3 linked regions of the Homo sapiens genome follow. The protein of the gene in region 1 purifies or fractionates together with the protein of each later gene. This does not show direct contact. Each region holds a gene or a part of one and is shown in the gene's direction. Other genes may lie near its edges.

Region 1 (3,647 bases):
CTGCTTCCGTGGCGACTGGTCGGCTGAACTTGGTCTCACTTGTCACTCAGTTCTGCTGTTTGTACCTGCCAAGTAAGGGAGGGGGACTCGGGAGGCTGGGCAGCCTCCAGCCCCACCGCCTCCACCTGCATCACTTTGGGCGAGTCATATGTGATGAACTGGGCCGGCTCCAGTCTCCCCTCTGTAACGTGGGGAGAATTCTCCCTCTCACGGCTAACGTGGGAATCGGCAGATGGAAAACACTAGCTACGCAGAGTGTGTACTGTACACGTGGCTCTGCCAAGCCAGGAAGGGTAGGTGTGCTGTCTGACCGTCACGGCATGTGGCGTGCTCTGAGTGTAACTCGAAAGGAGAAGTTTATGAGAAAGATTGAAAGAAGCCAGAAAACTGACGTTCGTCTTAGTTTTTTGCCATTGATCATTGAACTCGAGAGTGGAGAACTGGACGGTTCTAAGCCAGGTTTACTCACACCTCTGCTCCGTTGCCTTAAAGCCAGAAATGGTTCTTTACAATCACATAGGGAATGTCGGAGGAACTGCAGGGTCACCTAACAGATGTCAGCTGAGACTCTCAACAAAAAAACGTTTTTACCAAGAAAGCTAATGCCTTCACAGGTAGGGCGCTGCTGGAGGCATGTGCTGGCCGCCGGGCAGTGAACCTGGAAAGTGTAGAGTCCTTGAAACCACTGTGGCACGAACACATCCTGTGGTTGTTGGAAGAAGGCACAGCTGACACTATATCAGTGGAATTTTCTGCCAGCAACTAGCTTACTCCATTTTCCAAGATTTGGCTGAATTTATTTTAGGTGTTTTTTTTTTTTTTTCTTATCACTTGAGAACATTTTTTCATGTGATGTTTCATCTTTGAAAATATTATAATCTGAAGTATGAGCTGGAATAATTTCTTTGTCATGTAAAATCCTTGTTTTTTTTTTTGGAGGTGCGAATTTTTCTTACATTAACCCGTGGTGGTCTTTTCCCTAGTAGTTGCTATTGAGTGTTGATGTCTGCCTCTGACAGGCTAGGGGTAGTCTGTCTAAGTGAACAGAAGGACATTGTTGAAAGTGAAGTATCATTATTTTTATTCCTGCATCGTCTTTTGTTCTTTATTCTTGGCAGCGGTAAAACTCCTCCAGGCAGCTGACAGCTTTAAAGACCAGACCTTCTTTCTCAGCCAGGTTTCCCAGGATGCCCTGAGGAGAACCATCTTCCCTCTGGGGGGATTAACGAAAGAGTTTGTAAAGAAAATCGCTGCTGAGAATAGACTTCATCATGTGCTTCAGAAGAAAGAGGTACGAGTGAGCAGTTGCCTTTGATTAGTGCCTGTTTCCCTTTCCCGACTGCATGGCACGGAGCAGCTGGACCTGTGGGTCCCGCACCACTTCCCCTTCTCCAGGACCTAACATCAAAGGCGGGCCTTGGAGCAATAGATGGAGGAGTTTGCTGAGGCGCACGGTACAGGGCTCTGCTGACATCGGGAGCAGCCTATACGAGACTCCTTGCTTTTTTCCTCTCCTCTGCCCCTATGTGGTAGGCAGCTTTCCCCACAGCCTTAGCAGCTGGTGGGGTGCTCTTGGGATGGCCTGCCTGCCAGGTGAGTGCCAGGCAGTGTGATGCAGCCCCGAGACCCCTGGAGGGGCAGGTGCTGTGCCGCCGTCTGCACACTCATGTGCCCTGTCACCCGCTTGCCCGGCACAGACTCGTTCGGTGCCATCTGTTCGGGCGCTGTGCTGCTGGGCCGCGAGGAATTGGTGACGCGCACACAGTTCCATCTTCGCCTCCATGGAGCCCGCCCGCGAGTGGGGGACACAGGCAGGAGGCCAATCAGTGTAAACCTAGAAAATGTCTACGGAGGGAGGTGTAGGACCCTGGGTGGGAAGCACCAGTGGGGTCTGAGAGTAGGGAATGGAGATGCCAAAAACGGCCTCAAAAGAAGTCACATGGAACCTGAGACCTGAAGGAGGAGAGGATCCGGTGTCCCAGAGAGGGCTGGGAAAGTCCAGATGAGGGAACGGCAGTGCAAAGGCCTTGAGGCGAGGAGAAGCCAGGGAGCCGCTGTGGGGGTGCCTGCCTGTGGCCCCAGCTCCTCAGGAGGATCGAGCGCACCCAGGAGTTTGAGGACAGCCTGGGCAACACAGCGAAACTCGTCTCAAAAAGAGAGAACCCGGAGTGTTGGCGGAACTAGGATGAAGCCCGTGGGAGGGCCTTGGGGATGGAGGGCGAGGGCGCTGTGGGATGAGCCTCACCTCTTCAGGGGCCAGTGCGGTGGGAGCTGTTGCTCCTTCGTGTCTCTTCCTGGTAATGGAAACGGCCATACCTTTCATCAGAGCCATCTTCCCTGAAGAGCACGCCCACCGCCCGTCCTCCTCTCCTCTTGTTTTCCGTTTCCGGTGTCGCTCTGTGGTGGGAGCCGCAGGGATGGAAGGGCAGTCTTGAGAGACACAAACCAGAGTAAACGATGCAGCCCCTGATGGGGCCACGGTGGAGAGCGCACGCCACCCAGGCTCCCCAGCTAGGGCAGATGTGCTTGAGGAAGGCGCCTCTCTCCTCTGACTCCCCTGGAGCCCTCCCCTAAGGCCTTAGCTTCAGGCCTGGCTTTCCTGCTACCTGCCCCTTCTCTGGTCCCTGTCTCTCCCCCACTCCTCGCAGGACAGTGGCCTGAAGGACCTGACCGGGTTCTGCTTTCTTCCCCGGGGCAGCTGGTGTGAGGGTCTCCCGCGCAGGGTCAGACCCCGCGGGCCGAGACAATGAGGCGTTCTCTAAGGCTCTGGCATCGTGTGCGCCGGCTGTGACTGGCGGCCGAGGGTGCCGGTGGGCAGCCGGGCCCCTACCCTGGAAGCAAAGTGTGGGGTGAGGCCGGGAGGCCCCAGGGCCCGCTCAGGACGTCTGGGTACAGCTTGGGCCACCGCCACTTCTGCTCCTCTCACGGCTGCCGTCTTCTCATTTCAGAGCATGGGCATGTGTTTCATCGGGAAGAGGAATTTTGAACATTTCCTTCTTCAGGTGCGTGCTGCTCTTTGACACAAAGAGATGGGGCTGCGTGTCTGCCCTGGGCCTAGATCTCCGTCGGTAATGACATGTTTGTTTTCCAGTATCTGCAGCCTCGACCTGGTCACTTTATTTCCATAGAAGACAATAAGGTTCTGGGAACACATAAAGGTGAGGTGCAGACTCTGCCACTTGTCATCTGAAATGCCTAGAGCTGTGGCGTTTCAGCTCTGGGAGACTAGACCAGAGTTCCTGTCGTCCCTTCCACTTGGCTGGAGAATTGTAGAAGGCTCTGTGGGGCGGCCGGGGGCGGGCACGGCCTAGGGTGGAACAGTTGCCTTGATGGTGGCTGGGTGCACTTCCAGATGTGGCCTCAGCTGAGATGCTGGAGTTCATGAAAAGCGCGCCTCTGACTTGGAAGGACTATACTCTGTGAGTTACGTATCAAGTCCCTGTAAAAAGAATGATTTCCTTCCTGTGTAAGGAAAATGTTAAACTACACAAAACTCCACTCTGATTCAGGGAGTAAGGTGGACGTCCCGGCATGGTGTGAATGATTAAGGACCACATGCAGCGATGGGATCAGGCGTCCGCGCTGGCCAGAGTGCTGCTCGCTCATGTGCAGACCCTTACTGCGGTGAGGCCTGCGTGAGCCTGTGC
Region 2 (3,647 bases), on another chromosome or scaffold:
CGTATAAAGTCATCTTCCCATGCATGCCCCATGTTGGAAACTAAAAGCACAGAAAGGCCTTCCTAGCATGTTTCCTTCCTTCTACCAGGTGGCCAAGTTTATTGGGTCTCCACCAGGCTACGTTGGCCATGAGGAGGGTGGCCAGCTGACCAAGAAGTTGAAGCAGTGCCCCAATGCTGTGGTGCTCTTTGATGAAGTAGACAAGGCCCATCCAGATGTGCTCACCATCATGCTGCAGCTGTTTGATGAGGTGAGTCACCTTGGGCCAGGATGGAGCGGGGGGACACCTGGAGATAAGGGGGACTGTGAACAGCAGAAAGCAAGGGCCCAGAGGCTAGCTGGTCATTCCTCGGCTTCCTGCTCCCGCATGTGTACATTCATTCATCCAGTAGGTGCAACTTAGCCCCTCTGCACTAGGGCCTGGGTGGGGCACTCAAGCGAAGACCAGCCCTGCCTAAGAGTTGAAATTGTGTGGCTGCTCAGCCCACCTTCTAGAGAGACATGGTATGGCAGAGGTGCCATGAGAGCGAGACATGAATTTTTAGTTCCAGCTCTGCTCCTGACTGGCTTTGTGGCCTTGGCAAGTCACTGCCCATCTCTAGGCATCAGAGATCTCATGTGACAAACGAGGAGGCTGAATCAGAGAAGCCCCAAAAATCCTTCTGCCTCAGACAGCTCTTGTTCCTCCCTGTGTGCCAAACATTGTCTCCTGCAGTTCTTTAAAATGCTAATATTGTTGCTGCTAATGGTGAGATGCTGATACTCTGATTCATGGAGCCTTTCTCTTCTGAGAATCTGAGGGTTCTCACAGACTGTCCAGTTCCCCTGCTCGTAGGGGTAAGTTCTAAATGGAGAGAAGAGCTTACTTCTATCCAGTACCTTCTGTGTACTAGACCTGTACTAAAGACGTTACAGCCATTATCACTAATCCTCACAAGGTAGGTAGAAAAATTCCTAACAGGCAAGGGAGAAATTAGCTCATTTTTTACAGATGAAGAAACTGAGGTTCAGAGAGGTTATAAAAGACATGCCTAAGGCCACAGCTGCTGTGTAAAGAGCCAAGATTGGGCTGCAGATATGTCTGATCCCAGAGCCCCAATTCTCCCCCCATACCACTGTTTACCTTGAACCAGGCGAGGGATTGCTTACGATCACGGAAGAAGATGACTTCCACCTTTTCAGGGGCCCTGCTCCATCAAGAGAGCGTGAGGAGCCAAGGACTGAACCGGGGATGAGGCCTCTCTTCTCTCATGCAGGGGCTATATTAGCTAGCACCTGGCCATGAGTCCAGCTCACCTTTCTACCTAGTCTCCTGCAGCCCTAGGAAAACAAAAAGGTGGTTTGCTTCCCATGTCATAGGAGGCCACAGGGAGGGGACTCCTCCAGACCGAACAGCACATCAGGTACCAAGCCAGGAAGATCCAGATCCAGATCTCCTACCAGCTGCTCACTGCCTTCCCCACCTGGCCCAGCCTCCTTGCCCCTGCCCGTTCCGTTGTATCTTCCTAGCCCTTCAGCTGCTCCCTGCCCCTGAACCTCTGCTGAGGAAGAAGAGACCAGTCCTTCAGAGGTCACATACTCAGTTACTCACGTGTACACTGAGGCCTCTACTCCATTCCAGCCTCTTGATGGGATTCAAGTGCACAGCTATGACCAGACCCGAATGTGCCCTCTTGGAGCTCTCTGCCTGGTAGACAGGTGGAAAGGAGACATGGTAGTAGCTGGCATTTTGCATTTTGTGTGCCATTCGCTGTCTTCAGAGGCTTATGTGTATCAATTTAACCCTTTCAACAACCCTCCAAAGCTAGCTATTATTACGGCCTCCATTGAACAGATGTGGAAACTGAAGCAAAGTAAGATTAAGTCATTTACCTGTGGTCATGCAGCTGGGGAGAGAGAATCAAGGATTCAAACCCAGGCAGCCCAGTTCTAGATCCTGCAGCTTGAATGACTGCCACGCAGCTAGGGCCAAAAGAGCGAGGTCCGTCTCAGTGAAGCACGCAAGGGACGGGACCATGCCGCTGAGGGAGGGTGAGCATCGCGGCCTGTTTGATCTCTGGTCTCCCTGGAGAGGCACCTCTGATGGCATTCTTGGCCCAAAAAACAGAAGGCAACTGCTGACTGAAGTACAATCAGCCATACATGGAAGCCCTGTCTCCCCCTCCTCCGTCACTTCACTCCACTGACTGCCTTTTAGGGGTTGATAGGAATTCCTTCCTGCAGCTGTTGTCGCCCCTTCCCCCAGCCCCAGCCTACTATAGTTTCTGATGCTCTTGGTTCCATTGACCAAAGCTGCCATCCAGGTTTACTCGATTTAGGCTCTTTGAGGATGGGCCCTTGTCATGTTCACTTGAACCATTCCCAGAGCCCACAAAGTCAGGGGAAATGTTGTATTGACTAATTTAATTCAACAGTAGTTTTAATTCAACAGTAGTTAGCAAACCTTCAAAGGGTTAGTAAGTGCTAGGTGAACAGAGTGGCGGGGCTGGCAGTAGAAACCTAATGTATAAAAGTACAGGGCATGAAACAGGCTGGCATGCTCAGGGAACTGCAGCTGGTCAGTACTGCTCGATTGCAGAGGGAAAACAAGGACAGAGTGCTAGAGACAAGGTAGGTAAGGTAAACAGGGCCCAGTTAAAATGCCAGGCACAGAAGTTTGCATTTCTCTGGTAGAGAGTAAGGAGCCTTTTAAAGACTTTAAGCAAGAAAGAAACAGTCAAATTTTCACTTTACAAAGATGCCGTGGGCAGCTGTGTAAAGAATGGATGAGAAGGGAGAGGGTCATTAACAAGGAGACTGCTGGGGAGCCCAAGCTACAGCTGGGGAGGCCATGGGCTGGAGAAACTACTAGAAGGTTGACTGAGGAGAGGAGGAGGAGCCAAGGGTGGCCAGTTGGCTGCTGCCAGTTGGCCATCAGCTAAGGCGGCGAACACAGTGGGAAGCCGCAGATTGAAGAGGAAGGTGAGGCACTGAGGTGTGGAAATGTTGAAGGTGAGATACCTGAGGGACATCCAGATGGAGATGGCCAAGGGGCCGTTCATCAGTTTTATGGGTCAGGAGTTTAGGAAAGGTCTGACTGAAAATAGCAGTTCAGGAATCCTTCAGCCCAGAGAGGTTAACGGAAGCCACAGGAATGGATGAGGTCTGTAACCCAGGGAGTGTATAATGTGCAGAGAAAAGAGGGCTATACACAGAGCCTTGGGACCTATCAGGGAAGTCAAGACAGACTCGCCAGAGAAGTAGGAGGCAAAACCAGGCCAGGCATGATGGGTCACACCTGTAATCCCAGCACTTTGGAAGGCCGAGGTGGGCAGATCACTTGAATTCAGGGGTTCGAGACCAGCTTGGGCAACATGGCAAAACCTTGTCTCTACAAAAAATACAAAAATCAGCTGGGCATAGTGACATGTGCCTGTAGTCCTCACTACTCAGGAGGCTGAGGTGGGAGGATGGCTTGAGCCTCAGAGGCTGAGGTTGCAGTGAGCAGAGATTGCACCACTGCGCTCCAACCTGGGCAACAGAGCCAGACCCTGTCTCAAAAACAAAAAAGAGCCAACCAAAAGAATGTGGCTCATTCATTTATTCATGAGGCGCTGTGTGGGGTAGAGGGGACACTGACAAAACAGATGCAGCCCTGGCCTTGGCGT
Region 3 (3,647 bases), on another chromosome or scaffold:
CTCTTATATGCTGCATAGACAGGTTTTGCTTTGTGAGCCAATCTATAAATTTTATTCTTTTCATTGCTGACTTAAGCAATTGATGCCATTGATGATTTTGGTCTCAGCTCTGTCAAATTATTATCATTTTATTTATTTATTTTTTGAGACAGTCTCGCTCTGTTGTCCAAGTTGGAGTACAGTGGTGCCATCTTGGCTCACTGCAACCTCCACCTTCCGGGTTCAAGCAATTCTTGTGCCTCAGCCTCCCAAATAGCTGGGATTACAGGCGCCCGCCACCATGCCTGGCTAATTTTTGTATTTATTTATTTATTTATTTATTTTGAGACGGAGTCTCGCTCTGTCACCCAGGCTGGAGTGCAGTGGCGCAATCTTGGTTCACTGCAACCTCCGCCTCCTGGGTTCAAGCGATTCTCCTGCCTCAGCCTCCTGAGTAGCTGGGATTACAGGTGCCCACCACTGTGCCCGGCTAATTTTTGTATTTTTAGTAGAGACAGGGTTTCGCCATGTTGGCCAGGCTGGTCTCGAACTCCTTACCTCAGGTGATCTGCCCGCCTCGGCCTCCCAAAGTGCTGGGATTATAGGCATGAGCTACTGCTCCTGGCCTAATTTTTTTTTTTTTTTTTTTTTTGAGATGGAGTCTCACTCTGTTGCCAGGCTGGAGTGCAGTGGTACGATCTCGGCTCACTGCAACCTGTGCCTCCTGGATTTAAGCGATTCTTCTGCCTCAGCCTCCCGAGTAGCTGGGACTACAGGTGCGTGCCACCACACCCAGCTAATTTTTGTCTTTTTAGTAGAGATGGGGTTTCACCATGTTGGCCAGGATGGTCTCGATCTCTTGACCTTGTGATCTGCCTGCCTCGGCCTCCCAAAGTGCTGGAATTACAGGTATGAGCCGCTGTGCCTGACACCTGTCAAATTATTTTACTGTGTTTATTTACCATGTTTCTTTCACTGTGGGGTCTCTGTCCTTGCTGTTTTGTTTTTCTTTTAACTTCTTTTGTTATTTAGGAAGGTTTATATTAATATTTTAATTCTACATTGGATAATTCCTATATCAAAACTATTGTTGACAATCAGTTACAGATGGAACTTCGTCTACTCTTTCTCCCCTTCTCACTCCTGCTCTTTCTCCCTTTCTCACTCCAGCAGTTGACTAGTCTCATTGAAAAAACAAATTGGGGCCGGCCAGGCATGATGGCTCATGCCTGTAATCCCAGCACTTTAGGAGGCTGAGGCGGGTAAATCACCTGAGGTCAAGATTTCGAGACCAACCTGGCCAATATGGCAAAACCCCGTCTGTACTAAAAAAATACAAAAATTAGCTGAGCGTGGTATTGTGCGCCTGTAGTCCCAGCTACTTAGGAGGCTGAGGTGGGAGAATCGCTTGAACCCGGGAGGTGGAGGTTGCAGTGAGCCGAGATCGTGCCATTGTGCTCCAGCCTGGGTGACAGAGCCAGACTCCATCCCAAAAACAAACAAACAAATAAACTGGGAATTTAGTTTTACTGGTTGCTGTTTCTGCTGACTTGCTCAAGGAGTCGTGTTTCCTTTTAAGTTTTGTGGTTATTTTTGTGTCCTGTAGTAAGCTTTTTTTTTTCTTTTTCGAGGCGAAGTCTCACTTTGTTGCCAAAGGCTGGAGTGCAGTGGCGCGGTCTTGGCTTACTGCTACCTCCGCCTCCCAGGTTCAAGCAATTCTCCCACCTCAGCCTCCTGAGTAGTAGCTGGGACTACAAGAGCGCTGCCACCACGCCCGGCTAAATTTTTTTTTTTTTTTTTGAGATGGCGTCTTGCTCTGGCGCCCAGGCTGGAGTGCAATGGCGCGATCTTGGCTCACTGCAACCTCTGCCTCCCAAGTTCAAGCGATTCTCCTGCCTTAGCCTCCCGAGTAGCTGGGATTACAGGTGTGTGCCACCATGCCTGGCTAGTTTTTAAATTTTTTGTAGCTGGGACTACAGGTGCATGCCACCACGCCCGGCTAATTAAAAAATTTTTTTTGTGCAGGTGGGGTCTCACTATGTTTTCCAGACTGTAATAACTTTCCTATTGGAGTATAATACAGAAGTGACCAAATCATAAGTGTACTGTTTAAAGAATTATCTTATAGTTAGTCTGGGCAACATAGCAAAATGCTGTCCCTACAAAAATACAAAAATTAGGCCGGGCATGGTGGCTCATGCCTGTAATCCTAGCATTTCAGGAGGCCAAGGCGGGCAGATCATGAGGTCAGGAGATCGAGACCATCCTGGCTAGCACGGTGAAACCCCGGCTCTACTAAAAATACAAAAAATTAGCCGGGCATGGTGGCAGGCGCCTGTAGTCCCAGCTACTCGGGAGGCTGAGGCAGGAGAATGGCGTAAACCCGGGAGGCGGAGCTTGCAGTGAGCCGAGATTGCGCCACTGCACTCCAGCCTGGGCGACAGAGCAAGACTCCATCTCAAAAAAAAAAAAAAAAAAAAAATATATATATATATATATATATATATATGTAAATTAGTCTGGAGTGGTGGTTTGCATCTATGGCCCCAGCTACTCAGGAGGCTGAGGTGGGAGGATTGCTTGATCCCAGGGAGTTTGAGGCTGCAATGACCTATGATCACATCACTGTACTCCAGTCTGGGCAACAGAGCAAGATTTGTCTCTAAAAATTAAAAAAAAAAAAAATTATAGTTACTTGTGTGTTAGTTTTGGGTTTTTGACCAGCCATGAATATTCCCAAATATACTATTTTCCACTCATTATTTCACAATTGTCTACCAAGTTAAAATGAAGAACTTTGTCAGGTACTCTGCAAAGGAGGGATGGGCAGAGGGAATATTTCACAAACTTAGGCCAGGGGCCTAAAACATCTCTGGCCTAAGGAAGAGAAGCCTATAAGGATCTTTAATACTTTACCCTTTAACACTCTGGGTAGGTGCTGGTGGATGTGCCCTGTACCACAGACCGCCACTCCCTTCATGAGGAGGAGAACAACATCTTTAAGCGGTCAAGGAAGAAGGAGCGACAGATATTGCCTGTGCTGCAAGTGCAGCTTCTTGCGTGAGTGACAGATTTTTAAACTCAGGACTTTGTGCCAGAGTGCTCTGGGAGACTGGGGGACTGGAAGCTCTTACCAAGACCATAACCCACACAAGAATCTTATGGCTGGAGATCTGCCTAGAGGAGACAGAAATGGGATCATCTCTGGAACATAAAAACCCTATTTGAATTAGCTGGGTGTGGAGATGCACACCTGTAGTCCCAGCTACTCAGGGGGCTGAGGGAGGAGAATCACTTGAACCTAGGAGGTGGAGGCTGCAGTGAGCTGAGATCGTGCCACTGCACTCCAGCCTGGGTAACAGAGCAAGACTCTGTCTCAAAAAACAAAAACAAAAACAAAAAAGCAACCCTATCTAGTAGGATATATATACTAGAGTGGGCTGCACAGATTGACTCATGCTATTTCATCCTCAGTACCAGTGAGTAGCACATGTTTGAAAAATAGCTGCTAGAGTAAGGACTCATTCTATAGCCAGCATAGCAATTTGGTCCATAAACAAGAGCTCAGGGGGTCATTGTAAGGAGACTTCCTAGTGAAGAGCTCATGGAGTAAGGTTGGGTTGCTATCTGCCTTGAGAGTGACTTTTCAGACAGTGTCATTGTGGAAG

What was found.
Region 2: the proteins of TRMU (region 1) and CLPB purify together in Homo sapiens (affinity purification with mass spectrometry; one large-scale study listed by BioGRID and IntAct). This does not show direct contact.
Region 3: the proteins of TRMU (region 1) and NSUN4 purify together in Homo sapiens (affinity purification with mass spectrometry; one large-scale study listed by BioGRID and IntAct). This does not show direct contact.

The regions. Positions count from the first base shown.
Region 1 is NC_000022.11:46,349,173-46,352,819, forward strand, and holds part of TRMU (mitochondrial tRNA-specific 2-thiouridylase 1), read left to right. Parts: intron 1-1,118; coding exon 1,119-1,291; intron 1,292-2,948; coding exon 2,949-3,002; intron 3,003-3,091; coding exon 3,092-3,158; intron 3,159-3,647. UniProt on the Homo sapiens protein: Catalyzes the 2-thiolation of uridine at the wobble position (U34) of mitochondrial tRNA(Lys), tRNA(Glu) and tRNA(Gln).
Region 2 is NC_000011.10:72,298,406-72,302,052, reverse strand, and holds part of CLPB (mitochondrial disaggregase), read left to right. Parts: exon of another isoform or gene 1-88; coding exon 89-250; exon of another isoform or gene 251-1,320; intron 1,321-1,591; exon of another isoform or gene 1,592-1,687; intron 1,688-1,872; exon of another isoform or gene 1,873-2,090; intron 2,091-3,647. UniProt on the Homo sapiens protein: Functions as a regulatory ATPase and participates in secretion/protein trafficking process. Has ATP-dependent protein disaggregase activity and is required to maintain the solubility of key mitochondrial proteins.
Region 3 is NC_000001.11:46,357,790-46,361,436, forward strand, and holds part of NSUN4 (5-cytosine rRNA methyltransferase NSUN4), read left to right. Parts: intron 1-2,914; coding exon 2,915-3,039; intron 3,040-3,647. UniProt on the Homo sapiens protein: Mitochondrial RNA cytosine C(5)-methyltransferase that methylates cytosine to 5-methylcytosine (m5C) in various RNAs, such as rRNAs, mRNAs and some long non-coding RNAs (lncRNAs).